7 linked regions of the Homo sapiens genome follow. Changing the gene in region 1 together with any one later gene gives a genetic interaction. Each region holds a gene or a part of one and is shown in the gene's direction. Other genes may lie near its edges.

Region 1 (3,500 bases):
CAGGTATGAGCCAGAGCGGGATGAGTGGCACTTGGTGGCCCCAATGCTGACACGAAGGATCGGGGTGGGCGTGGCTGTCCTCAATCGTCTCCTTTATGCCGTGGGGGGCTTTGACGGGACAAACCGCCTTAATTCAGCTGAGTGTTACTACCCAGAGAGGAACGAGTGGCGAATGATCACAGCAATGAACACCATCCGAAGCGGGGCAGGTGGGTGGGGACGGTAGGGAGGGGAGCACCCAGGAACACCCCCTACCATCCTGGGGTGAAACTGAGCCAGGCCTGGGAGAGACCCCCTGTTGCAACCCTCATGCTGGGGTAACCACAGAAGCCCTGGATTCTGATAGAGTCCAAGCTTCTCTCTCTCCCCGCTTCATTTCTGAGGGTGAGAAGGGAGAGGAGAGAGGAAAGGTCTCCCTCAAGGAGGTGATGGCTGGGGTTCCCAAAGCCAGACCCCCAGAGTCACCTTCTCTGCATGGTGCCCTTTAGGCGTCTGCGTCCTGCACAACTGTATCTATGCTGCTGGGGGCTATGATGGTCAGGACCAGCTGAACAGCGTGGAGCGCTACGATGTGGAAACAGAGACGTGGACTTTCGTAGCCCCCATGAAGCACCGGCGAAGTGCCCTGGGGATCACTGTCCACCAGGGGAGAATCTACGTCCTTGGTGAGGCCCTGGGGGCGGGGAAGAGTCCTGACTAGCCCATCTTTTGTGGACTGCTTTTGCTTTTGCTTTCCTTTTTTTTTTTTTTTTTTTTTTTTTTAGAAACAAGGTCTCGCTCTGTTGCCCAGCTGGAGTGCAGTGGTGTGATCACAGCTCGCTGGAGCCTCAACAGCCTGGGCTCCAGCCATCCTCCTGCCTCAGCCTCCCAAGTAGCAGGGACCACAGGCGCGCACCACCACACCCGGCTAATGTTTTTTTTCTTTTGAGATGGTGTCTCACAGTGTTGCCCAGGCTGGAGTGCAATGGCATGATCTCAGCTCACTGCAACCTCCACCTCCTGGGTTCAAGCGATTCTCCTGTCTCAGCCTCCTGAGTAGCTGCGACTACAGGCACATGCCACCACACCAGGCTAATTTTTTGTATTTTAGTAGAGACAGGGTTTCACCATGTTGGCCAGGATGGTCTCGAACTCCTGACCTCGTGATCCACCTGCCTCGGCCTCCCAAAGTGCTAGGATTAGAGGCATGAGCCACCGCGCCCGGCCTGTTTTGTTTTTTGTTTTGTTTTGTTTTGTTTTGTTTTTTGAGACAGAGTCTCAGTCTGTTGCCAGGCTGGAGTGCAATGGCACGATCTCAGCTCACTGCAACCTCCGCCTCCTGGTTTCAAGTGATTCTCCCCCATCAGCCTCCCAAGTAGCTGAGATTACAGGCGCCTGCCACTATGCCCAGCTAATTTTTGTATTTTAGTAGAGATGGGGTTTCACCATGTTGGTCAGGCTGGTCTTGAACGCCTGACCTCAGGTGATCTGCCCACCTCAGCCTCCCAAAGTGCTGGGATTACAGGTGTGAGCCACCGCGCCCAGCTTAATGTTTTTGTTTATTTTTATTTTATTTTATTTTATTTTTTTGAGACAGAGTTTTGCTCATGTTGCCCAGGCTGGAGTGCAATGGCGCAATCTTGGCTCACTGCAACCTCTGCTTCCCAGGTTCAAGTGATTCTCCTGTCTCAGCCTCCTGAGTAGCTGGGAATACAGGCACGTGCCACCACGCCTAGCTAATTTTTTTTTGAGATGGAGTTTCACTTTCGTTGCCCATGCTGGAGTGCAATGGCTCGATCTCGGCTCACTGCAACCTCCACCTGGCAGGTTCAAGCGATTTTCCTCCCTCAGCCTCCCGAGTAGCTGAGGTTACAGGCATGCGCCACCACGCCCGGCTAATTTTGTATTTTTAGTAGAGAAGGGTTTTCTCCATGTTGGTCAGGCTGGTCTCGAACTCCTGACCTCAGGTGATCTGCCCGCCTCGGCCTCCCAGAGGGATGGGATTACAGGTGTGAGCCACCATGCCCGGCCAATTTTGATTTTTAGTAGAGACGGGGTTTCACAATGTTAGCCAGGCTGGTCTTGAACTCCTGACCTCAGGTGATCCACCTGCCTCAGCCTCCGAAAGTCCTGGGATTACAGGCATGAGCCACTGTGCCCGGCCTTTATTTTATTTTATTTTTATTTTTTTATTTTTTGTTTATTTATTTATTTATTTATTTTGAGGTGGAGTCTTGCTCTGTCACCAGGCTGGAGTGCAGTGGCACAATCTCAGCTCACTGCAACCTCCGCCTCCCGGGTTCAAGCGATTCTCCTACCTCAGTCTCCCAGGTAGCTGAGATTACAGGCGTGCATCACCAATCGCATCTAATTTTGTATTTTTAGTAGATACAGGGTTTCACTCTGTTGGCGAGGCTGGCCTCGAACTCCTGATCTCAGGTGATCTGCCCGCCTCGGCCTCCCAAAGTGCTGGGATTGCAGGCATGAGCCACCGCGAGTGGCCTATTTTCCTATTTTTATTTATTTATTTTGAGATAGGGTCTCACTCTGTTGCCTAGGCTAGAGTACAGTGGTGCAGCCTCTGCTCACTGCAACCTCTGCCTCCCAGACTCAACTGATCCTCCCCACCTCAGCCTCCCTAATAGCTAGGACTACAGGCGCGCACCACCAAGCCTGGCTAAATTTTTATGTTTTTTTGTAGAGATGGGGCTTCACCATGTTGCCCAGGCTGGTCTCAAACTCCTGGACTCAAGTGATCCACCCACCTCAGTCTCCCAAAGTGCTGGGATTATAGGCGTGAGCTACCAAGCCTGGCCATTTTTTTTTTTTTTTTTTTTTTTTAGTAAGAGACTAAGGTTTTGCTATGTTGCCCAGGCTGGCTTCGAACTCCTGGCCTCAAGCAATCCTCCTGCCTCAGCCCTGCAAAGTGCTAGGATTATAGGCGTGAGCCACCACGCCCGGCCTGCTTTTGCATCTCACAGCTGCATCTCTCTCTTTCTGTCCCCTGCTCTTGGATGTGGTGTGACAGGTGGTGACCATCCCTTCTGTTCTTCCCGCAGGAGGCTATGATGGTCACACGTTCCTGGACAGTGTGGAGTGTTACGACCCAGATACAGACACCTGGAGCGAGGTGACCCGAATGACATCGGGCCGGAGTGGGGTGGGCGTGGCTGTCACCATGGAGCCCTGCCGGAAGCAGATTGACCAGCAGAACTGTACCTGTTGAGGCACTTTTGTTTCTTGGGCAAAAATACAGTCCAATGGGGAGTATCATTGTTTTTGTACAAAAACCGGGACTAAAAGAAAAGACAGCACTGCAAATAACCCATCTTCCGGGAAGGGAGGCCAGGATGCCTCAGTGTTAAAATGACATCTCAAAAGAAGTCCAAAGCGGGAATCATGTGCCCCTCAGCGGAGCCCCGGGAGTGTCCAAGACAGCCTGGCTGGGAAAGGGGGTGTGGAAAGAGCAGGCTTCCAGGAGAGAGGCCCCCAAACCCTCTGGCCGGGTAATAGGCCTGGGT
Region 2 (3,500 bases), on another chromosome or scaffold:
CCACCTGGATGCAGTCTCAGCTCTACCACTTGCTGCATGTGTAATTTTAGGCAGGTTACTTAACTTCTCTGTACCTTAGTTTTCCCCATCTGTAAACTGGGGAAATATGGTGGACCACATATAGCTGTGAAATTAAATGAGTTAACATGTCAAGGGCTTAGAACAGTGTCTAGTACAGTCTGTAGTAAAGCTGCATACATTTTTATATTAATTTTAGATTATGGAGCTAAAGCGATTTTTTTATATTTACACTTAATAGGGTAGCTATTCATTGCCTGACTCCTGGAATGTTAAAATTCATTCCACCATGATTGTTTAGCAGTAGTAACTGGAGGGAGAGAACACAGCAGACTAATCATTTTAATAAGCAGAAGTCAGTTCTCTTGGTAGGAGATTAGAATGGCACAAATTGGACTTACTTTTTTAAGACTCCTGAAACACCAGACTGTTTTTACAATTTTCAGTATATATATTTTCTACTATGTGATTTTGAGCAGAAAAAAATATAAAATTGGGAACGGAGAATTTAAAAACAATGCCTTTTACCCTAACTTTCTTTGACTTAGATTTAGTTGTTACCTTCTGTTCATATGAAGAGTTGCAAAATTAGGGAACTAAGATAATTAAATTGAGATACCTTTTCCTTTTTAAAAATAAATATAACAAATCATAAAGTAGCCATGATAAAATGTAAAGTATTATGTTATTTAATGAATATGTGTGTGTACATTACCTCCTCCTTTCTGTTGCTCATATTTCTTTGAAAAATGTGTAAAGTTCTGTTGGTAGGTAGAACACCTAAATGTTAAGTAAACTCTAGGTAGGAAATGACTTCAGGATGGTACAGAGTGGTTAGGAGAGACTGCTGGGTGTGTGGGGTCTATGTCTCTCTACCCAGGTGACTTTGAGTAGTTTCTTAATCTGCCTTTATCTCGACTGAGCTTCTCTTTCTTCCCCATGAAATGTTGGGTTTGGTTGAACAAATTTCTGCACTTTTGAAATTCTAGGAGTGTTTTTTTTTTTTTATTCATTTAACTAGCTGTGTGTTTAGTCAAGTTTCTTAGGTTCTCTAAACCCAAGTTTCACCATTTGAGAAGGGAGAATAACATTAAATAATAGTACCCTTAGGGTTTTTGGAGTAAATAAAATAATGCAGGTAAATCATCCAGCACCGTGCCATCTACAGAGTAAGCAAATAAGAATTGTTGGCTGGGCGTGGTGGCTCACACCTGTAATCCCAGCATTTTGGGAGGCCAAGGTGGGTGGATCACTTGAGGTCAGGAGTTTGAGACCAGTCTGGCCAACATGGTGAAACCCCACCTCTACTAAAAATACAAAAATTAGCCGGGCGTGTTGGTGCGTGCTTGTAATCCCAGTTACTCGGGAGGCTGAGTCAAGAGAATCACTTGAACCTGGGAGGTGGAGGTCGCAGTGAGTCAAGGTTGCGCCACTGCACTCCAGCCTGGGCAGCAGAGTGAGACTCTTGTCTCAAAAAAAAAAAAAAAAAAAAAGAAATTGTTACTTGGTTTTATTTGCTGCTGTTAGTTCTGTATCTTGGTGTTCCTCCAAAACAAAATTTGTAATTTTTTCATTTTTCTTTGACACATAATCTGGTCTATTACTTTAAGTCTTCATTGCCCTCTCCTTCCTGGCTCAACCCTATACTCCCCTCCTTACTTCTGTGTGGTATTCAGGTGATGAATGTGGATTCCGTTTTGAGTTGGAGAAATTTCTTTTTGTCAGTTTGGATTTAATTTTAAGAAATAATGAGGTAAGCATTTAATTTTGGGGTTAGTGCTTTATCTGGTAACTCTGAGAAAAGGCCATATATGTTTTAAAAATTTACAGGGAGGTTTATATATTTTTTTTAGCATATTAACTTTTTATTCAACAATTTGCCAGATTTTGAGGTAGGTAGGGGTTAGCTGATTTCTCACGTCTTGAATTTCAGTCAGTCCTATGACCTGTTAGTCTGGACCCAGCATTGCTTTTTAAAAGTTTGTCTTTTGCTGAGTACTTTTTCATTGCTTTTTCCTGGGGCAGAGAGCCGAGAAGAGATTTCAGGAGATTTGTGTTAATAGTTAATTGATCCACATGTGAAGGTTGTGAGTTTAAATTCCCAATTTGCTGTTCCATTGCTACATCTCGAAGATTTTTCCTGCAATTAGAAACTACTTAAACTGTTAACTTTTATCTATTATTTTGAAACTAGACATTTTTAGTGTTTAAACTTTTTTAACATTAATGTACAAATGAATTGTTAGCATTGAGAAATAAGACACCTGCCCCCAAAGTGGTACCATACTAAAGGTTTTCTTGTTTGGGGAACAGTTGAAATGGTCCTGCAGGCAATTCCTAGATAAAATTTCTGTACACCCAAGGAAGAACATTTTCTTATAGAGGATGACTGCCTTTGGAGAAGAAGGAAATTTTAACCTGCAGTTTCTTAACTTACGTCTTATTCTTGTTTTGTTCATTCTCTTTCTCTTTGTGTCTGTCTCTGTGTGTGTGTGTTTGTGTGCATGCGTACCCCTGTTTTGGGATAAGGAAGTTGTAGGAATTGAGTGGGGACACTTTTTTTTTTTTTTTGAGACGAAGTTTCGCTCTTGTTCAGGCTAGAGTGCAGTGGTGCAATGGCGTGATCTTGGCTATCTGCAGCCTCCACATCCTAGGTTCAAGCGATTCTCCAGCCTCAGCCTCCCAAGTAGCTGGGATTATAGACAGGCATGTGCCACAACACTCAGCTAATTTTGTATTTTTAGTAGAGGTGGAGTTTCACCATGTTGGCCAGGGTGGTCATGAACTCCTGACCTCAGGTGATCCACCCGCCTGGGCCTGCACCATGCCTGGCCGAGTGGGAGCACTTTTGTTGAGTAGGTCAAGAATACTGCTTTCCCTTGGTAGATAACAGGCTACTGCTTACCGGGATGGGATTTTAATTCATCTGATTGCTGAAATATCATGGTCTTTCCTAAGCTTTGAATAAAAATAGTCTGCTCCATTCAGTTAGGAAAATAAATTGATAACTTTAAATTGGGGGAGTAGAGTGGGAAGAGACTTTCTTAAAGCTATTAAAAAAAATTTTAGCTGGGCACGGTGGCTCATGCCTGTAATCCCAGCACTTTGAGAGGCTGAGGCGGGCGGATCACTTGAAGTCAGGAGTTTGAGACCAGCGTGGCCAACATGGTGAAACCCTGTCTCTACTAAAAATACAAAAATTAGCTGGGTGTGGTGGCGGGCGCCTGCAATCCCAGCTACTACTCAGGAGCTGAGGCAGGAGAACTGCTTGAACCTGGGAGTCGGAGGGTTGTAGTGGGCGGAGATCATGCCACTGCACTCCAGCCTGGGCAACACAGCAAGACTATATCTCAAAAAAAAAAAATGTCTCTCTCTCTCTCTCTCCCTCTCTCTCTCTCTCTCTCTCTCTATATATATATATTTTAAAAGTTTCTTTTTCAAATTAAAGTTGGTCTTTAAAATTGAAACAGATTTTGTGATGC
Region 3 (3,500 bases), on another chromosome or scaffold:
TGAGCTTTCTGGCTGCATGGTTTGGGTGTTAGGAAATTTAGTTAGGATTTTATTTCTTTTCCACTTTTAATAAGTGAAACAAATTGGTCTCTGAAGACATCCTAACATTACTTCATTGAAAATAGTCCATTTCAGGATTGTCTTTCTATAAGAAGTCTTGGATGGAGGTAGAGAGAGAAGATGAGAGAAGAAGCTATTGGTCAGAGACAGCTCTCAATTGAATCTTTATGTGGCAGTGTTTCTGGGATTTATCTGTGAGACAGCAAGAGTACAAATATCTGAATTTTAAATTATATTATATTGAAGTTACTTGACTTTTAACGCTGAGAAATACATTGTTTGGGTTAATTTAAATACTATTTAGTTGTAAAGTTAGTGGTAAACTAAGTGCCAGCCATAGTAGGAAGAAATAATTATTAGGGAAATACATTGCTTTCAATAGTGTTTTTTTTTTCCTAGTGAGGCATAATTGTTTTAAGAAATATCATGATGACTAGGTAGGATTAGACTAAATGAAAGGGCTTGAATCTTTACGTATTATGCATTTCACAGTCAGATTAACCAATCCCTCAAAATGTTTAGTTCTTTAAGCCGTATTCGTAGTCTAATGTTGAAGTTAATCAATGGAACCCTAATTCAGGAATTAGCCAATTCTTTTCTGTTAATATCAGATCAATGTTTTTAATCCAATGCTGACTGCAGTTTTAAGCAATTGAAGTAATACTATTTTGAAATATATTTCAGATATACCAGTATATTCAGAGTCGCTTTTATCGGTCTCCAGAGGTGCTACTGGGAATGCCTTATGACCTTGCCATTGATATGTGGTCCCTCGGGTGTATTTTGGTTGAAATGCACACTGGAGAACCTCTGTTCAGTGGTGCCAATGAGGTAAATGATGTATTGCTTTACAAATTCTGTTTTCATAATTTCTTTTTGTCTTTCATCTGTGACAGTGTAATTTAAAAGTTGTTTTTAGGCAAAGATGTCTACTTAATCATTCAAATGTGAGGTCAGTTTGAATATACCTATTTTTCATATTTGTCAGTTGTCATGTAAGTTTAGAATTATGAGATAGGAGTAGGATATTTTAATCTACTCATGAAGGAGAACAGTTAGAAAGTGTTAAGTATTTTGGCATACATTTTACAGGTTTTAAATACAATACAGAAAGCTTAAAGATGATAAAGAATGAAGGCCATCCTGAAGAGTGATACAAACATCACTCTAAATTTTGAGATTATGATTTGGAGTTGAAGAGTAATGATCAGTAGGACTGATGGATACTCAGTCTGAATAATGTAGAGTAAACGAGATTATAGACTTGTAGGGCTACAGAGACTGTGTGCAGTTCTGAAGTCTACAGGTTTTCAGTCTGTGTTCTGGAAGATTTTTCAAGGTCAGAGGCAGTGAATGGGAGGGCAGGGACAGGCCTTAACTTCCCTGCAGTCAGAGAAATTAGACTTTCATTGTTTTAAAAACTACACCTGTGGGGTTTTGTTTGTTTTTTAAAAGAAAAATTGACAATTTGCACGTCTTGATCAGTCTATTTATAAATGAGAAGAGAAAGGCCAAAGGCATTAATGACTTGTACCGGATTACACAGCTGTTAATAGGTGGTGTCAGAAACTTGTTTCTTCCATCCTTCCTTTTAATTCTTCTTTTTTTTTTTTTTTTTTTTTCCCGGAGATGGAGTCTTGCTCTGTCACTCAGGCTGGAGTATAGTGGGGCAATCTTGGCTCCCGAGTAGCTGGAATTACAGGCAAGCGCCACTATGCCTGGCTAATATTTGGATTTTTACTAGAGTTGATGTTTCACCATGTTGGCCAGGCTGCTCTCGAACTCCTGACCTCAAGTGGTCTGCCCGTCTCAGCCTCCCAAAGTGCTGAGATTACAGGCGTGAGCCACTGTGCCCAGCCCCTTTTAATTCATTTCAACTTGAACTGGTGAGCTACTCTTTTATAGTAACTGTCATAGTTTGTTTTTTTTTTTAGTATAAATCTTACTGTGTAAATTAGTATCTTTCTTGGGCTTAAACAATATTAAAAAAACTTTGCCATGTTACTCATTGTAAAGGCCGAGGTCCTTTGAGTAACCCACAGATTCCTACTTCCTCTGATGCCAGTTCTCTCACCACCACCTGGTCTCTCCTTCTCCCCTCACTCTGTGGTCCCTTGAAAACGCCAGCTACAGGCCCATAGCCCTTTGTATTTCTTCCTTCCTGTGCCTAAAATGCTCTTTTCTGAGATACTCCTTTGCTGATGTTAGTGTTTGCTCTGATGTCACATTCTCGGTGAAACCATATACCCCACTTACGGTTGCAGTACCCCTTCTCCTCATCCCATAGTTCTTAGCCAGCATCTGACATCATGTATTTAATTATTTATTGATAATGCCGGGCGCAGTGGCTCACACCTGTAGTCGCAGCACTTTGGGAGGCTGAAGCAGGCAGATCACTTGAGGTCAGGAGTTCGAGACTGGCCCTGCCAATATGGTGAAACCCCGTCTCTACTAAAAATAGAAAAATTAGCCTAGTGTGGTGTTGCGTGCCTGTAATCCCAGTTACTTGGGAGGCTGAGGCAGGAGAATGGCTTGAACCCAGGAGGCAGAGCTTGCAGTGAGCCGAGATCACGCCACTGCCCTCTAGCTTGGGAGACAGAACAAGACTCCATTAAAAAAAAAAAAAAATTGTGTGTTTGTGTGTATATGTATTTGCTGTCTTCCCACTATAACATAAACTTCTTTTTGGCAGGAATTTTTATGTTTTGTTTATTATTTTCTACCACTGAATATGGTTCCTAGCATATAATAGGCACACTCATTTAAAGTACTTAAAAAAGTACTTTATTAGGTCCATACTTTATTAAGCCTCTGGGATTTTGTGTGTGTGTGTGTGTGTGTGTGTGTGTGTGTGTGTGTGTGTGTGTGTGGTTATTTAACATGCTCTGAAAACTGGGTTGGGTGCCGTACCTCACGCCTGTAATCCCAGCACTTTGGGAGGTCAAGGTGGGAGGATTGCTTTATCCCAGGAGTTTGAGACTAGCATAGGCAACATGGTAAAACCCCATCTCCACAAAAACTTTTAAAAATTAGCTGGGCATGGGGCCGGGCACGGTGGCTCACACCTGTAATCCCAGCACTTTGGGAGGCCAAGGTGGACAGATCATTTGAGGTCAAGAGTTTAAGACCAGTCTGACCAACATGGTGAAACCCTGTCTCTACTGAAAAATATGCCTGTAGTCCCAGTTACTCAGGAGGCTGAGGCAGGAGAATTGCCTGAACCTGGGAGGTGGAGGTTGCAGTGAGCCGAGATTGCGCCACCGCACTTCAGCTTGGGTGACAGAGCGAGACTCCATCTAAAAAACAAATAGCCGGGCATGGTGGTACATGCCTGTAGTCCCAGCTACTCAGGAAGCTGAGGTGAGAGGATCACTTGAGCCTGGGAGGAGGTCAAGGCTGCAGTGAGCTCTGAGTGCACCACTGTACTCCAGCCTGGGTGA
Region 4 (4,060 bases), on another chromosome or scaffold:
GTGAAACCCCGTCTCTACTAAAAATACAAAAATTAGACAGGTGTGGTGGCGCATGCCTTTACTCCCAGCTACTCGGGAGGCTGAGACAGGAGAATCGCTTGAACCTGGGAGGTGGAGGTTACAGTGAGCCGAGATCGTGCCATTGCACTCCAGCCTGGGCAACAAAAGCGAAACTCCATCTCAAAATAAATAAATAAAATAAAATGCGTCAGGGAGGGTCGGGCCTTGTGGCTAATGCCTGTAATCCAGGTACTTTGGGAGGCTGAGGTGGGCGGATCATTTCAGGTCAGAGGTTCGAGATCAGCCTGGGCAACGTGGTGAAATCCCCGTCTCTACTAAAAACACAAAAAAATTTGCTGGGCGTGGTGGTGCGTGCACCTGTAGTCCCAACTACTAAGGAGGCTGAGACAGGAGGATCGCTTGAACTCGAGAGGCAGAGGCAGCAGTGAGCCGAGATCACGCCACTGCACTCCAGCCTGGGTGATAGAGCAAGACTCTGTCTAAAATAAAATAAAATAAAATAAAATAAAATAAAATAAAATGGGTCAGGGAGTGGGTGATTTCTACTGCTAGACTGTTTAGGCCCTGTAATAAATGGATAAGGGAAGATAACTGAGAGGCGGGGGGCAGGTCCCTTCTTAATATTCACTGAATCATACACACAGACAATACCTTCTTGGGAGACAGGCCTCAGAGGCCTGGGAAAAGACTGGGGGAGGAGTTCAGACCAGATGCCAGGCACTGTGCCTGCATTTTCTCAATGAACCCTCTTTCACAGTCACCCCGTAAAGTATTATTTTCCTCATTTTACAGACAAGGACACTGAAGCACAGAGGTGAAGTGACTTGCCCAAGGTCACTCAGCTAGAAATTTAGGATTCCATTATCTCATTTCTAGTCCTGATACAGGATGCTACTTGGGACGCAGGGGAGGACTGTTTCTAGACCTCAGGCCTGTGAATGCAGGCTCCCCGAGTGGACAGAAATCTTGGAGGACCTAGATCAGGCCCTAGAGGAGGAGAGGGGAGATGGAATATCCTCTCCCAGTTCAGAAACTTTCTCGGCAGTGGAGGATGATAGTGGAGGGGACTCTGTCCTTCACCCCATTGATCCCCAGAGGGGTGATAGCTGAGTCTTGTGACTGGGCCCCTGGGCAGGGGTCAAGGGTCAGTGCCCCTGTTTCCTTTACCCCCTCCTCCCCGGGCAACCTTTAACCCTCCACCGCCCACACGCAAGGCTGCCTGCCTCTACACATTCTCCCAAGAGTTGTCTGAGCCGCCGAGTGGACAGTGGCTGATTATGGAGAGCAGAGGCCCACTGGCTACCTCGCGCCTGCTGCTGTTGCTGCTGTTGCTACTACTGCGTCACACCCGCCAGGGATGGGCCCTGAGACCTGTTCTCCCCACCCAGGTGCAGGAGCGGGACAGGGCACTCAGCTCATGCAGTCTTCCCTTCTCTCCTCTGGCCCTGTAGCAGGGCCTCTCCCTCTGTCTGTCTCTGACATGTCCCTACTCAGCTTTGTTTGTTTTCTCTTTCTGATAGAGTGCCCACGACCCTCCGGCTGTCCACCTCAGCAATGGCCCAGGACAAGAGCCTATCGCTGTCATGACCTTTGACCTCACCAAGATCACAAAGTATGGGGTTGGCCTAGCCCTTGACCCAGTCCCCTGGTTCTGCCCTCTCTCCATCAGCTCTTCTCTTTTCCCTGTCTTCCTTTCCTTATCTGTGAACACCATCTCCCCCAAACCCACACTGGTTCTCAAAGGACACATGACATACACAATCTTTCCTTCTGTGTCCTTCCAGAACCTCCTCCTCCTTTGAGGTTCGAACCTGGGACCCAGAGGGAGTGATTTTTTATGGGGATACCAACCCTAAGGATGACTGGTTTATGCTGGGACTTCGAGACGGCAGGCCTGAGATCCAACTGCACAATCACTGGGCCCAGCTTACGGTGGGTGCTGGACCACGGCTGGATGATGGGAGATGGCACCAGGTAAGCTAGCTCTGGTCCTCAGGGGAGGGATGTCTGGAGCTGGTCTGAGGAAAGGGAACAAAACCAAGTTATTGGGCATCCCTCTACCACTGTCATCTCGTTTAATCCACACGAACCCCCACAAAGTAGCTATTCTTGGCCCCATCTTTTCTGATGGGAATTCTAAGGCTCAGTCAGTATATAAGTGACAAGAGCTGAGTGACCCAAGGCCAAGGATGCTAGCTGCTTCTTTAAGGCATGTTCTTTCCACTATAGTACTAGGCTGCCTCACAGGAAGGTGGCAGAAACAGATCCCAGGGGCCTCTGATTTTGCTTCCCACCTTCCTGCAGGTGGAAGTCAAGATGGAGGGGGACTCTGTGCTGCTGGAGGTGGATGGGGAGGAGGTGCTGCGCCTGAGACAGGTCTCTGGGCCCCTGACCAGCAAACGCCATCCCATCATGAGGATTGCGCTTGGGGGGCTGCTCTTCCCCGCTTCCAACCTTCGGTTGCCGGTAACTACACCCCAGGGGTGGAACCCTAGCCAAGACTTGGTAAAGCACTGCTGGGTGGCTGGCCGTGGGAATCTAAGTCCACACTTTTAGGGAGAAGGGAAGGGTTGAGAGCTGCAAGGGGGAGGCCAAATGCTCAGAGGGGAGTCAACTGAGGGCAGGGAGGTCGGGACTGCGGCTCCGATGCCCTGATTTCTACATCCCCGTATCTTATCTCTGTCACACTCCAGCTGGTTCCTGCCCTGGATGGCTGCCTGCGCCGGGATTCCTGGCTGGACAAACAGGCCGAGATCTCAGCATCTGCCCCCACTAGCCTCAGAAGCTGTGATGTAGAATCAAATCCCGGGATATTTCTCCCTCCAGGGACTCAGGCAGAATTCAATCTCCGAGGTAGATTTCCTCGGAGTCTATTTTTCCCACCCTGGCCAGCTCAGCCTGCCTCTGTCCCCCTCTACCACTGGCCCCTTTCCTCCTTGAGACCCCAGCTTTGAGGCCTCAGGATAATCATTTCTCCCCACAGACATTCCCCAGCCTCATGCAGAGCCCTGGGCCTTCTCTTTGGACCTGGGACTCAAGCAGGCAGCAGGCTCAGGCCACCTCCTTGCTCTTGGGACACCAGAGAACCCATCTTGGCTCAGTCTCCACCTCCAAGATCAAGTAAAGGGGGACAGTGGGGCATTGCCTGTATTCAGTGGAGCCTGGAGCAATGAGGGAAGAGGGGAGTCCAACATGTCAATATTAGGAAGGTTTCCAGCCCAGGGAACATAACAAGACTGGCTCCACAGAATTGTTTTTCATTAATAATTAGCCAGGCATGGTGGTGCTTGCCTGTAATCCCAGGTGCTGGAGGCCAAGACCAGAGGATCACTTGAGGCCAGGAGTTTGACACCAGCCTGGGCAACATAGCAGAGACCTCTGTCTAAAAAAAAAAAAAAATTAGCCAGGCATGGTAGCACATGTCTGCTGCCCTAGCTATTTAGGAGCCTGAGGCAGGAGGTTCACTTGAGCCCAGGAGTTTGAAGCTGCAGTGAGCTATGATGTGCCACTGCACTCTGACCTGGGCCACAGTGAGACCCTGTCTCAAAAAAATAAAAATAAAAATAAGGCTTATGGATGGCACTCAGGTGGGTGGTAGGGGCGAGGGACATATCTTGAAGCTCCCCACAGCAAGCAAACAGTTTTGACTTAGACTGCATATTTACTTGGGGCAGGTGTGGTTTCAAAAAGGGTCAAGCCAAAAAAAATTGGGGCAGGATTTAAGTGGTGAGAATGGCCAGTAGGTGGAGGCATAGCGAAGAGGCAGAATTAAGGCAGCTAGGGGTGAGGCCACAGGCAGTAGGCCCGGCTCATTCTTCCCTCTCTCTCTACCGTCCCTTTCCCACACACTCTGCAGAAGGTGGTGTTGTCTTCTGGGTCGGGGCCAGGGCTGGATCTGCCCCTGGTCTTGGGACTCCCTCTTCAGCTGAAGCTGAGTATGTCCAGGGTGGTCTTGAGCCAAGGGTCGAAGATGAAGGCCCTTGCCCTGCCTCCCTTAGGCCTGGCTCCCCTCCTTAACCTCTGGGCCAAGCCTCAAGGG
Region 5 (3,500 bases), on another chromosome or scaffold:
CCCTTTGCAGATAACTATTATTCTGACTTCTAGTAGCATGGATTCGTTTTCTCTTTTTTTTTACTTTTCAGTTTATATTCTCATATCTGGCCTTTGTACTGTACAGTTTTGTTTTCTTGTGTCTGGCCTCTGTGTTCAACATCATGTTTGTGAGACTCATTTAAATTTTTGTGTGTGTTCATTCTTTCTCATGGTTGCATAGTATTTCATTCATAAATATTACTATTCATTCCAATATTGACAGGCATATCTTTAAATTATTAATGTGCATATTTGGTTTTAAAAGTTCAAAGTTGAAGATATTATTTCAGTTGCTTCTGGCTTCTGTTGTTGCTCTTGGAAAGTGTTCTAAGTTTTAATCCTTCATGGATAATTTGTCTTTTCTCTTGGGCGTTTATAAAGATCTCTTTGTCCTTTGTTTTCTGCAGTCACAACATGTCTAGGTGTGAATTTACTTTTATTGTCCTATTTGAAACTTGTGTTTCTCAATCCGAAGATCCACATCTTTTTTTTTTTTCTTTGATCTGTCGCCCAGGCTGAAGTGCAGTGGCACTGATCTCGGCTCACTGCAACCTCCACCTCCCGGGTTCAAGCGATTCTCCTGCCCCAGCCTCCCGAGTAGCCGGGATTACAGGCACACGCCACCACGCCCAGCTAATTTTTGTAATTTTAGTAGAGATGGAGTTTCACCATTTTGGTCAGGCTGATCTTGAACTCCTGACCTCGTGATCTGCCTGCCTCGGCCCCACAAAGTGCTGGGATTATAGGCATGAGCCACTGCGCCCAGCCCCACATCTTCTATCAGTTCTGAAAAAAAACCTAAGCCATTGGTTTCAAAGCATAATGGTAACATGGGCAAATAAATGTTTTTAAAAATCACTCTGTTGCTTACCAGTTGTTTACTTTGGACGAAACATTTAAATGGCTTGTGCCTTAGATTTCTCATCTGTACCATGGGGACAATACTAATCACTATTCTTCCTACCTCAGAGAGCTATCTTGGATAGCAAGGAGGAGAATGTACTTGAAATTGCATTGCAAGTTATAATATGCCACCCAAATAGTACAGGATTGAGTTCACTGTAGATGTTCAACAAAATTTATTTAATGAATCTCAATAAATATTTGTTGAATGTTTAATGAATAAACAGTGTAAATATTGTTTAAAATTTTATTGTTTTTCTCCTTCCCCATTCCCTATAAAAGAAATGCAAGAATATTTGCATCACTCACAGAAATTATCTATGTATACACCTAGAATGTATATGAAAAATCACTACGATGATTTAGACATAAAATGAAATTATATTCAGCTCCCAATGCTGTTGATTTTCTAAAATATAAGCCATTGTCTCTACCATTGGTAGTGTTTAATGTCTGTAAACTACTATTGTTCCTTTTGTCTGTACTCTACCAGCCATCAGATATTGTGTGCATATCCTTGTCTTAGTGTCCATTTTTAATGAATTAATGTATTTCCTGTCTCTCTAATTAGATTTTGTGGAGATGGGCTAGTGAAAAGTTCATGGGTTTAAAATTAGGCAGATCTGGAACCAGATCTTGACTTTTCCATTTCCTGACCTGTGACATTAGGCAAATAGCTTTACCTTTCTCATCTTCTGTTTACTTTTCTGAAAAGTAAGGGATTAATTTAGTTATGGATTCCCTGCCATGTGTATAGTGTTCTTTTAGGTGTTTGAATGACTTAATTTGTATCCTTGTAGCAACCTTGCAATATAGATGTTACTATTCTTTTACAGGTAGGGAACTTGATACTCAGAAAGATAACTTGCCTAAGGTCATAAAGCTAGTATGCATTATAGCCAGACTTCTAACCTGGGGTGTCTGATTATAAAGTGTGCCCCCTCACTAGTATCTGAGAAGGTGTTTAGCACAGTTGACACTCAGTTAATATAGGCTCTTTTTTAGTGGAGCGATAATGTTTTATAATTTTCTAACACTTGACATTTTTCCCTGTACATAGTAGGTACTTCTTCACCAATTGCTTATTGGCTCTGTTTATGCTGCTGTTGTTTTATTCACTGAATGTTCACTTTTTAGCCAAAGGGAAAGGACAGTCCCAAACCAGAGTGAATATTAATGCTGCCTTGGTTGAGGATATAATCAACTTGGAAGAGGTGAATGAAGAAATGAAGTCTGTGATAGAAGCTCTCAAGGATAATTTCAATAAGACTCTCAATATAAGGACCTCACCAGGTTAGTGACTGAACCAATGTTCTGGGGAGGGATGTAATGGAAAGAGCATGGGTTTGGCAGAGTTGAGTTTTAGTCCCAGCTTTGCCATTTACTAACTGGTGGCCATGGGCAGTTACTTTGCTTTTCTGGTCCTCGGTTTTCTTGTTTGATTCTTAACTTACAGCTTTGGGGTGGTAGTTAAAATAAATGAGGTAACGTATTATGGTTCTAGCATAGTGCCTGGCGCATAGTTAACACTACATTTATTTATCCATGCTGCAAATTTTTGTCTACTTTGGAACTAGGCATTGTGCTAGTGCATAGTAGTAAACAAAAATAGGTATTGTCTTTGCTATCATGGAATTAGACTCTCAGAAAAATGAGATTTTTATTATGAATGTACTATAAACACATCTAGGTATTTAGTCTCATAGTAACTGACATCTTTGGTCCGATTTTTCCAATTTGTCCTGTTTGGCAGTTCTTATCCCTTACTGGGAACCAAATGAATACAGACCTGCCCACGTGAGGCATTTCTATACCCCTGAGCTTGACCAGGAAGATTCCGTTTGGGTTAATAACTTCCTGAAAGTGGCTTTTCTAAGTGGGAAATGTCAGAACTGTCTAGGCCAACTGTTTGCAGATGTGATGGAGAAGTGAGTTGTCAGCTGATGGTGCAAGCAGGCAGGAAAAATCCAGTTGCTGTTAAATTAGGCTTTTGCAAATTGTCATCATCCTAAAGTCAAACCTGGGACCCCTCTCTTAAGGTACCTGTGGGAGCTTGGGCTGCTTCTACTCACATCTTGATTAGGATAGTTCATAAGAAAACTAGAAATATTTCGCTCTTAAGAAAACCAAGTGAAAAATACAGCTCCACTTATAAACACTATCAGAAACATTACCGAGTTCAGAGATGAGATCCAGTGTGAAACTAGAAGACTGTTCCCGTCACTTGTCAACCTTTGGGCTGGGGCATTTCTGCCTTTGCTGACAGTAGAGCGTGCCATTCAATCTCTCTCAACTGTTTATTTTAAACTTGCTTATTATTTTAGGTATGAAACTGATAAAGTGCTCTGTCTCCCCTGTGTTTTCTGGCCTGTTAACATTCTGCAGCCGAAACCAGAGAGCAGTTTGAGAGGAGCTCAGGGAGAAATGTGATACTTAAAATTAGCCAGCAAGCTCCACTCTTGTTGAACTTAAAAAGATGATGGGCCTGGAAAGAGGTTGGGAGTGTAATTTGTTAAATGTTAACCTCTGAGAAAATGAGGGGCAGGAATGAGGCTGAGGGAGATTCTCGCTGGGGA
Region 6 (3,500 bases), on another chromosome or scaffold:
TCTAGCCCATCCAAATTTGATAAATGGAACCAGAGGTTATATACAACTACAAGGAAAAAAATGCATTTAACCATGCCACCTATGAGTGCCAGTGACTTATTTTACTTGTTTTTAATTATTCATTCATGGCAATTTAAAAAGTCATATTTTAAGTGGGATTTGTTTTTCCTGAAGGGCATTTGAAGGAACAATATCTGGGAAGGTACTAGAGAAATTACAAAGCCCGAGCTCTTTCTTATAATGCCACCTATCCCTGTAAGCTAAACAAACAAACAAACAAACAAACAAACAGTTCTATATATAATAGTTTCAACACAGAACTTAACAAGTCTCTTTTTTTGTTTGTTTAAATCTGGCTTTACTTGATTTAATTCCTTTTTAGAAAGAAATTTAGGGCAAAATAAAGTGTATATTAGGATTTAAATTTATGCCACAATTTAAAAATAAAACCAGAGGTTATATACAATTTAAATTGGGCTAAAAATTAAAAATTTGAGGATTTAACTTGATATAGCTCTCAGGATCTAAATAAAGTTTAAATTATCATTAAGACACTGCTAGGAGAAGATTAAGATTATGAAAGTAACAGTTATTGATACTGCTGGACTTCAAAGGCAAAGTTCATTTCTTCCATTAACTGCTTCCAGAGATGTCATGTAAAAAAGTTAGTGTATTAGAGAAGTTTTTTAGCTTTATAAAGAGGTTTTTTCAAATTTCTCCCATTTTTCTCTCCACCCACATAAAATAGTATGTTCAGTGAAATGCCACTTTCTATCTTTAATTGTTCGTATCATATATGCGAACTTTTTAGACATGAACATGACATGTTCAGCTAGGCAGAGTTCTCATAGATAATTTTCAAATATTTTCCTTGGCTGTAATTTATGTATTCATTTATATCCTATCCGTCTTTTGAGCTTCAGATCTATATACTCTTTTGTACTCTCATCACTCCGCACTTTGCTGTTTCTTACCTAGACTCTCTTTTACACAATATGCACATTTTTACCATTGTGGGGTCCAAATTTAAGATACCTTCCACTCACTAATAATATGAACTTATATTTCCTGGGAGTAGCCAGGTTAAATTTTCTATACTTTGGTCCATAATTTGATTTGATATGATTGTTTCATTTATAATTTGCCCAAATACATGGAGCACAAAATTTAGTGAATTTATAAATCTGGATTTGCCTTGTGTCCTTCTGAGTTTTCAAAGGCAAGTATTCAACAGTCCCTGTGTGATGACTGACAGGGTTATTTGCCTCATCCACATCCACCTTCGGAATACATTAACTTCCTTTGTAATTTATTTGAAAGTAGTGTTAAACTCATTCAGATCATTCAGTTGGATTTTCCCAATGAAGAGGAAAAGGAAAGTAGTTATTCCTAGCTCCATTTCTTATTTTCCACCAAATTTAATTGAAGGGCATTAATTAGATGTCTTCACCCTGAATTTAGACTTTGCTCTGTGTTCTCCCGGTAACTGTCAGACAAAAAGTTTATTGGCTCTGAGGAACTGAGAAATGTTGGGAACCTGGTTTCTGCTGTACACAGGAAAGATTTGTAAGTGAGCTCTCTCTTTGAAAACAGGACCCAGGCTGGGCACAGCAGCTCATGCCTGTAATCCTAGTATTATAGGAGGCAGAGGCTCGGGAGGATTGCTTGAGCCCAGGAGTTCAAGATCAGCCTAGGCAACATAGGGAGACCCTATCCCTACAAAAAATTTCTGAAAAATTACCTGGGCATTGTGGGGCACACCTGTTGTCCCAGCTACTCTGGAGGCTGAGTCCGGAGGAACGTTTGAGCCTGGGAGTTTGAGTTTGCAGCTTGCAGTGAGCTGTGATTGCACCACTGTACTCCAGCTTGGGCAACAGAGCAAGATCCTGTCTCAAAAGGAAAAAGAAAACAGGACCTAGGTGTTTGGGGTACACTGCCACCCAGGGAGTGGATCAAAAATATACATAGAAAGAGAATGAGCATGTCTCTATAATTGTCTTCTAGGACCATATTGCTGTTAGAAGTCCTAAAAGAGGATGGGTTGTAATTTAGCATAATATTCTGAATTCATTCCAAGTTTAAAATCCTGTCATTCTCTGGCTCTTCTTTTTTCACATCAAAATGATGCTGTTGGACTTAGAGGCTTCCGAACTGTTTTATTGAGGGCTACTATCTGCCTCCACAATTTTATTAAAACCACTCCACCTTTAGACAAAGGTGACTTTTGTCTGATTTTACAAATCAGATTTTATTCAAGCTTTCTAAATATCTGTGAAGTAGACCCTAGAAAATTGTCTCGTTTATTTTAAATAGAATCTATGCTTCCACCAATAAACCATCGGGAGCTAAGAAACAACATAATGTTGACAAATCAGGAACCTAACAGATTATTTTGTCTCTCATTATTAATTTGAAAGAGCCTCTAAACTTTTGAGAAATCAATGTGTCTTCTTAAGAAAGTTAAGCACCCTCTCTTAACTTTCCCCTCTATTTGCTCTCCTTTTTCTTTCTTCTTAAGAGTATTTATATTATTTTGTTAAGCAAAAATGGCTAAGATTGCTCTAAAATTTGCAAAATGAGGAGTGGATTGCAAATAATTGAGGGATTTATTTCTTTAACTTTATAAGACTTTAAAAAAAAAACCCAAATTCTAAGCACTGACATGAAAGTTGCCTTTGAGAAGCTTGTTATTCATTATACAAAAAGTATTTGCCCATTCCTATTCTAAGATTTGCAGAATATGTCACCCTATCTAGCTTTTGAGTTTGCTATCTGGTTTAATGTTGTATTTATAATTTAAAGTGGAAATCAGAAACTGTTTCAAGAACCTGTATTCTATTCCTTACTGAGTGTCCCTTCTTTAAATAGTGTTTGCTGAATTAAGCCGATGGGGGCAGTGGCGTTAAGTGGTGGAAAAAGGAAAGTATATATGTTAGAGTTTTGAATGAGGGATAAATAGAAAGCAGAATGAATTAATGGAAAAGAACTCGGCTGTTAGGCCATTCTCTAAATTCTAGTTTAGCCAAAAGTTTATGTGTGGTTTGGGGCTTCATTTATTTATCTCATGAGTAAAATGGAATAATACCTAACAGGCAGGCTCTGGAAGTTGGAAATCACATACACACACACACACACACAGACACACACACACACGATCAATCATGTAGCTCATATTAGATGTTCAATAAATAACAGCTACTACAGATGCCTATCAGTTGAGTAAGTAGTTCATTAAATTGAGCTCCCAAAGGTCTCTTCTCTTCACATCCATATCCGTTTCTGCAGCAATCAAATAGATACATGATTGTTTTTCTGTAAGAAATTACTGCAAAGAGAATCTTTTTCTCCTACTAACTGTTCCTTCTACCTGGTATAGGAGATAAATGTACGTTTCTTAATTAGCTGACTTTTTAGTATGTCATTTCTGAAGGAAAAATAAATTAACCTTAAAGTGGCATGTAGGTCCAATTCAGTTTTCCTACATGTTCCAAAATTTTATT
Region 7 (3,500 bases), on another chromosome or scaffold:
CAGCTTATTTCTCTTAAGTGTGTTTTGACTTACCCCACCTTTGAACAGCCCTTTAGTCAGGTGAAGATCTTAGTAAGCTATTTATTTCTGTAAAAATGAGTATGATTGTTGAGCCTCAGATGTCTTAAATAGTAATTTGAATATTTCACCCCTAGTTACGGTTTCATTTGTTGCCAAGAATTGTAACAGTGACATTGCATATACTTTTACTTCTTTTTAATTTTGCCAGTTGATATTTGGTCAGTGGGATGCATAATGGCCGAGCTGTTGACTGGAAGAACATTGTTTCCTGGTACAGACCGTATCCTTTAAAAAGTTTTGGATTCTTGTTTCTTATCTGTATTCCAGTGTCCATGGGTGTATACTCCTTTTACTTATCTCTAGGGAAGACTCTCAGTATTTTGCTTTTATAGTCTAGATAATGCATTATGAGGTCTTTCTTCAAACTGAGTAGCTTGCCTTGCCAAGAAAGAGGCTTCAGTTTACTTTTGTGAGTTGGAAAAATTCCTCATAAGTTGAAAAACCCATCAAGTCTGTCTTCTTTTTGCAACAGTCCCTTATTAATCATCCCACAGCAGTTCTGAGACCTGAGCATACTCATGAGAAACTCCAGATCCCAGTGACAGTTTTAGTCTTCTTGTATAAACACTTAATGAGCACAAGATGCCCATTTATAAATGAAGGGCATCTTGCTGTTATGTTTATGTATTAAAAGGGCTATGTTTGGTACCTGCAGTGATATACTGCTTACTTGTTATGTTTGTTGTTTGACAACAAATAGTAAAAGCAAGAAGTGAAAAGCTTACCATGTAATGTACTTTTGTTTTTCCAGCACAACTTTTTCCCAGATTGCAGCCAAACCCTAATTTACTCCAAGACTTACTGTCTAGTTTATGGTTTATTATAGCCCCTTTATTTTAGCTCCTTTCCTATCTGCGGTATGCTTGTTTCATGGTTTAGTATTAATGTCATGAAAAATGTGGTCTGTTGGAACTCTCATCAGTTCTACTTATGGAAGATGTTTAGGTGAGAAAGATTGTTAAAATATATGTCTAGAATTAGTTTTGGGGATTTTTTCTTTTTTTAATAGAATTGAGTTAACTAGCCTTCAGGTGGTTTTGGTTAGGCAATATTAGACATGCTACCTCTGATCTATTATGCCTAGAGATCTAAAAGCCATTTTAGTCCCTTACCTAAATAAACTAATTGAGTTTATAAACCAGAATGTCAATTCACTTGCTTACAGTTTGGGATATACTTCTGTAATGGCTATGATGTTCATGATATCTACCCACGTGTTCTAACTATCTTCTGCTAGAGAGAATGTACTTTCATTATGAACTGAAAAAACCTCTATTTCTCAGGTAAAGCTGTTTCTTTCTCTCTGAATATTAGGATTGATAACAGAGTTCAGTCTCCCTGTATTTAGCTTACCTTATTACTCCCTACCTCTGGATTTTAAATTAGTTTAATACCTGGTGTTTCTCCTTTGTCCTTTGTTTCATTCACCTTATATCTGTTTCTCAGAAATTTGGTATATATATATTACAGTCCAAGGTAAGAGAATTAGGGAAAATTCATACTTCCCCCTTTCCTCAGGTACATATCTCAGAGTCCCATCCTTGCTTTGTCCTCTAGAGTAGCTGCTGTCCTGATGCTATTCTCTGTTCCCTGCTCCCCTTCCTCTTCTTGTGTCTGTATCTCCAGCTACCATTTAGTCAGTCACAGACCTCCATGCCGGTGTAGACACACAAGGTGGCAGAGAGGGAAAGGCAGTATAACATACAGGTTAAGCACATGCTCTGGAGCCAGATTTCCTGGATTTAGATCTTAGCTCTTTTATTTCCAGCTATGTAACTTTGAGTAAGTTTCCTAACCTCTATTTCTCTCAGTTTCCTTAACCGTAAAATGATAATAATCATACATACTCACAAGGTTGTCGTAAGAATTCAGCCAGAAAATAACTGGAAAGTACTGAGACGAGCCTGCCAGTAAATGTTAGCCATCATGTTCAGTAATGGCCTTGCAAAACAGATTACCCCTTCACCTTCTCACTTAATTGTCTACCTATGAATCATTAATGTTTTGTTTTGTTTTTAATTCTGTGATAGGTAGGAAAGGATGGAACTCCTTGGCAGACTAGTGTTAGAAAGTTTTCGAAGCAGTGTGAGTCTTGTACCTTTGTGGTCCTGTCTCACAGACACCTGTCTATTCCCTGACCCTTTTAAATGCTAACTTTCTGCCTGTAGGAAATCTTCCCTTTGTGCTTAGGTCTTTTTCTTCTGTGAGCTTTAGATAAACAACCTAGTGTTTAAACTTTTTAATAAGGGATTCATTTTTTAATACATGAGAATTCATTTCAAAATTTTGGTTTTAGTTATTTATTTTATTCTACTTGGCTCTTTTTCAGACAGATGTTCTCTCCTGGATTGTAAAAGTCGAATTCAAAGGATTTTTATTTGTAATATACTTAACCTTTCTCTTGTAAGTTGCCATCTGTGTAGATACAGCTTTGATTGCCTGACAAGAGGAAAATGTTTCCCATTATCTTTTCCTGCCTGAACTATACGGTCACTTGTGTTCCAGCATAGTGGTTCTTAACCCTCATAGTGTGTCAGAATCACTTTGCAGAGCTTTTAAAAACTCTAGATGCCTGGGGACCACCCCAAAGACTCCATTTTGTTGTCATGGGTCAAAGCACAGTCTTCTAGTTTGCAGCTAGTGTTGAGTACAACTAGAGTTTAACCCAGTTGAATTTTAGTTTAATCTTGGCTGGTCTTGAAGATGTTAGTAATCTCTATTCATTTTTTTTGAAAAGTACCAATGAGATCAGAAAGTTAATTAGAAAACATCTAGTTGAATCCCCTGTTTTTAATAGATGGGGAAACCAAGACCCAGAGAATATAATCCAAAGCTACCTGTCACATAGGCCACAATTTCTTTTCCAATATTCTGTTCTTCGCTGTTCTTCTAATTTGCAGAACTCCTCTTTAAAAAACCTTTGGAGAATGTATTGGCCTCATACCCTCTTCCTTCAGCCTGAAAGACATGCACCTGTCACTTATTTATGATATTTAAATGCAACCTCTAGAACAGGGGTGTCCAATCTTCTGGCTTCCCTGGGCCACATTGGAAGAAGAAATGTCCTGGGCCACACATAAAATACACTAATGATAGCCGATGAACTTAAAAAAAATTGCAAAAAAAAAATCTCGTAATGTTTTCAGAAAGTTTACAAATTTGTGATGGGCTGCATCCAAAGCCCTGGGCCACGTGCAGCCCGCAGGCCCTGGGTTGGAAAAGCTTGCTCTAGAAGGTACTCATTGTTTGAGTGTCCAGTTTTCTCCCTGTTTTCCTTATTTATTGATCATTTTGCATTTGGAATTGGTGGTTTGGGCTTGTAAGTAAGAACTGTGTACTAGAACTTTTGTGGTATTGCAAATGTTTTATATCTGTGCTATCCAATGTGGTGGTTATAGGCACCAGCTGCCTGTGGCTAA

Evidence for each region.
Region 2: changes in KEAP1 (region 1) and RRAS2 together harm fitness more than expected from each alone (negative genetic interaction), as found in Homo sapiens cells (one large-scale study listed by BioGRID).
Region 3: changes in KEAP1 (region 1) and DYRK1A together harm fitness more than expected from each alone (negative genetic interaction), as found in Homo sapiens cells (one large-scale study listed by BioGRID).
Region 4: changes in KEAP1 (region 1) and SHBG together harm fitness more than expected from each alone (negative genetic interaction), as found in Homo sapiens cells (one large-scale study listed by BioGRID).
Region 5: changes in KEAP1 (region 1) and MRRF together harm fitness more than expected from each alone (negative genetic interaction), as found in Homo sapiens cells (one large-scale study listed by BioGRID).
Region 6: changes in KEAP1 (region 1) and VGLL3 together harm fitness more than expected from each alone (negative genetic interaction), as found in Homo sapiens cells (one large-scale study listed by BioGRID).
Region 7: changes in KEAP1 (region 1) and MAPK14 together harm fitness more than expected from each alone (negative genetic interaction), as found in Homo sapiens cells (one large-scale study listed by BioGRID).

The regions. Positions count from the first base shown.
Region 1 is NC_000019.10:10,486,357-10,489,856, reverse strand, and holds part of KEAP1 (kelch-like ECH-associated protein 1), read left to right. Parts: intron 1-3; coding exon 4-209; intron 210-488; coding exon 489-665; intron 666-3,038; coding exon 3,039-3,205; 3' UTR 3,206-3,500. UniProt on the Homo sapiens protein: Substrate-specific adapter of a BCR (BTB-CUL3-RBX1) E3 ubiquitin ligase complex that regulates the response to oxidative stress by targeting NFE2L2/NRF2 for ubiquitination.
Region 2 is NC_000011.10:14,352,684-14,356,183, reverse strand, and holds part of RRAS2 (ras-related protein R-Ras2), read left to right. Parts: intron 1-3,500. UniProt on the Homo sapiens protein: GTP-binding protein with GTPase activity, involved in the regulation of MAPK signaling pathway and thereby controlling multiple cellular processes. Regulates craniofacial development.
Region 3 is NC_000021.9:37,492,273-37,495,772, forward strand, and holds part of DYRK1A (dual specificity tyrosine-phosphorylation-regulated kinase 1A), read left to right. Parts: intron 1-744; coding exon 745-891; intron 892-3,500. UniProt on the Homo sapiens protein: Dual-specificity kinase which possesses both serine/threonine and tyrosine kinase activities. Exhibits a substrate preference for proline at position P+1 and arginine at position P-3.
Region 4 is NC_000017.11:7,628,875-7,632,934, forward strand, and holds the start of SHBG (sex hormone-binding globulin isoform 1 precursor), read left to right. Parts: upstream 1-1,260; 5' UTR 1,261-1,298; coding exon 1,299-1,409; intron 1,410-1,541; coding exon 1,542-1,633; intron 1,634-1,805; coding exon 1,806-1,995; intron 1,996-2,325; coding exon 2,326-2,487; intron 2,488-2,714; coding exon 2,715-2,874; intron 2,875-3,004; coding exon 3,005-3,141; intron 3,142-3,877; coding exon 3,878-4,060. UniProt on the Homo sapiens protein: Functions as an androgen transport protein, but may also be involved in receptor mediated processes. Each dimer binds one molecule of steroid. Specific for 5-alpha-dihydrotestosterone, testosterone, and 17-beta-estradiol.
Region 5 is NC_000009.12:122,278,382-122,281,881, forward strand, and holds part of MRRF (ribosome-recycling factor, mitochondrial isoform 1 precursor), read left to right. Parts: intron 1-2,061; coding exon 2,062-2,217; intron 2,218-3,500. UniProt on the Homo sapiens protein: Responsible for the disassembly of ribosomes from messenger RNA at the termination of mitochondrial protein biosynthesis. Acts in collaboration with GFM2. Promotes mitochondrial ribosome recycling by dissolution of intersubunit contacts.
Region 6 is NC_000003.12:86,942,650-86,946,149, reverse strand, and holds part of VGLL3 (transcription cofactor vestigial-like protein 3), read left to right. Parts: 3' UTR 1-3,500. UniProt on the Homo sapiens protein: May act as a specific coactivator for the mammalian TEFs.
Region 7 is NC_000006.12:36,076,308-36,079,807, forward strand, and holds part of MAPK14 (mitogen-activated protein kinase 14), read left to right. Parts: intron 1-229; coding exon 230-301; intron 302-1,527; exon of another isoform or gene 1,528-1,557; intron 1,558-3,500. UniProt on the Homo sapiens protein: Serine/threonine kinase which acts as an essential component of the MAP kinase signal transduction pathway.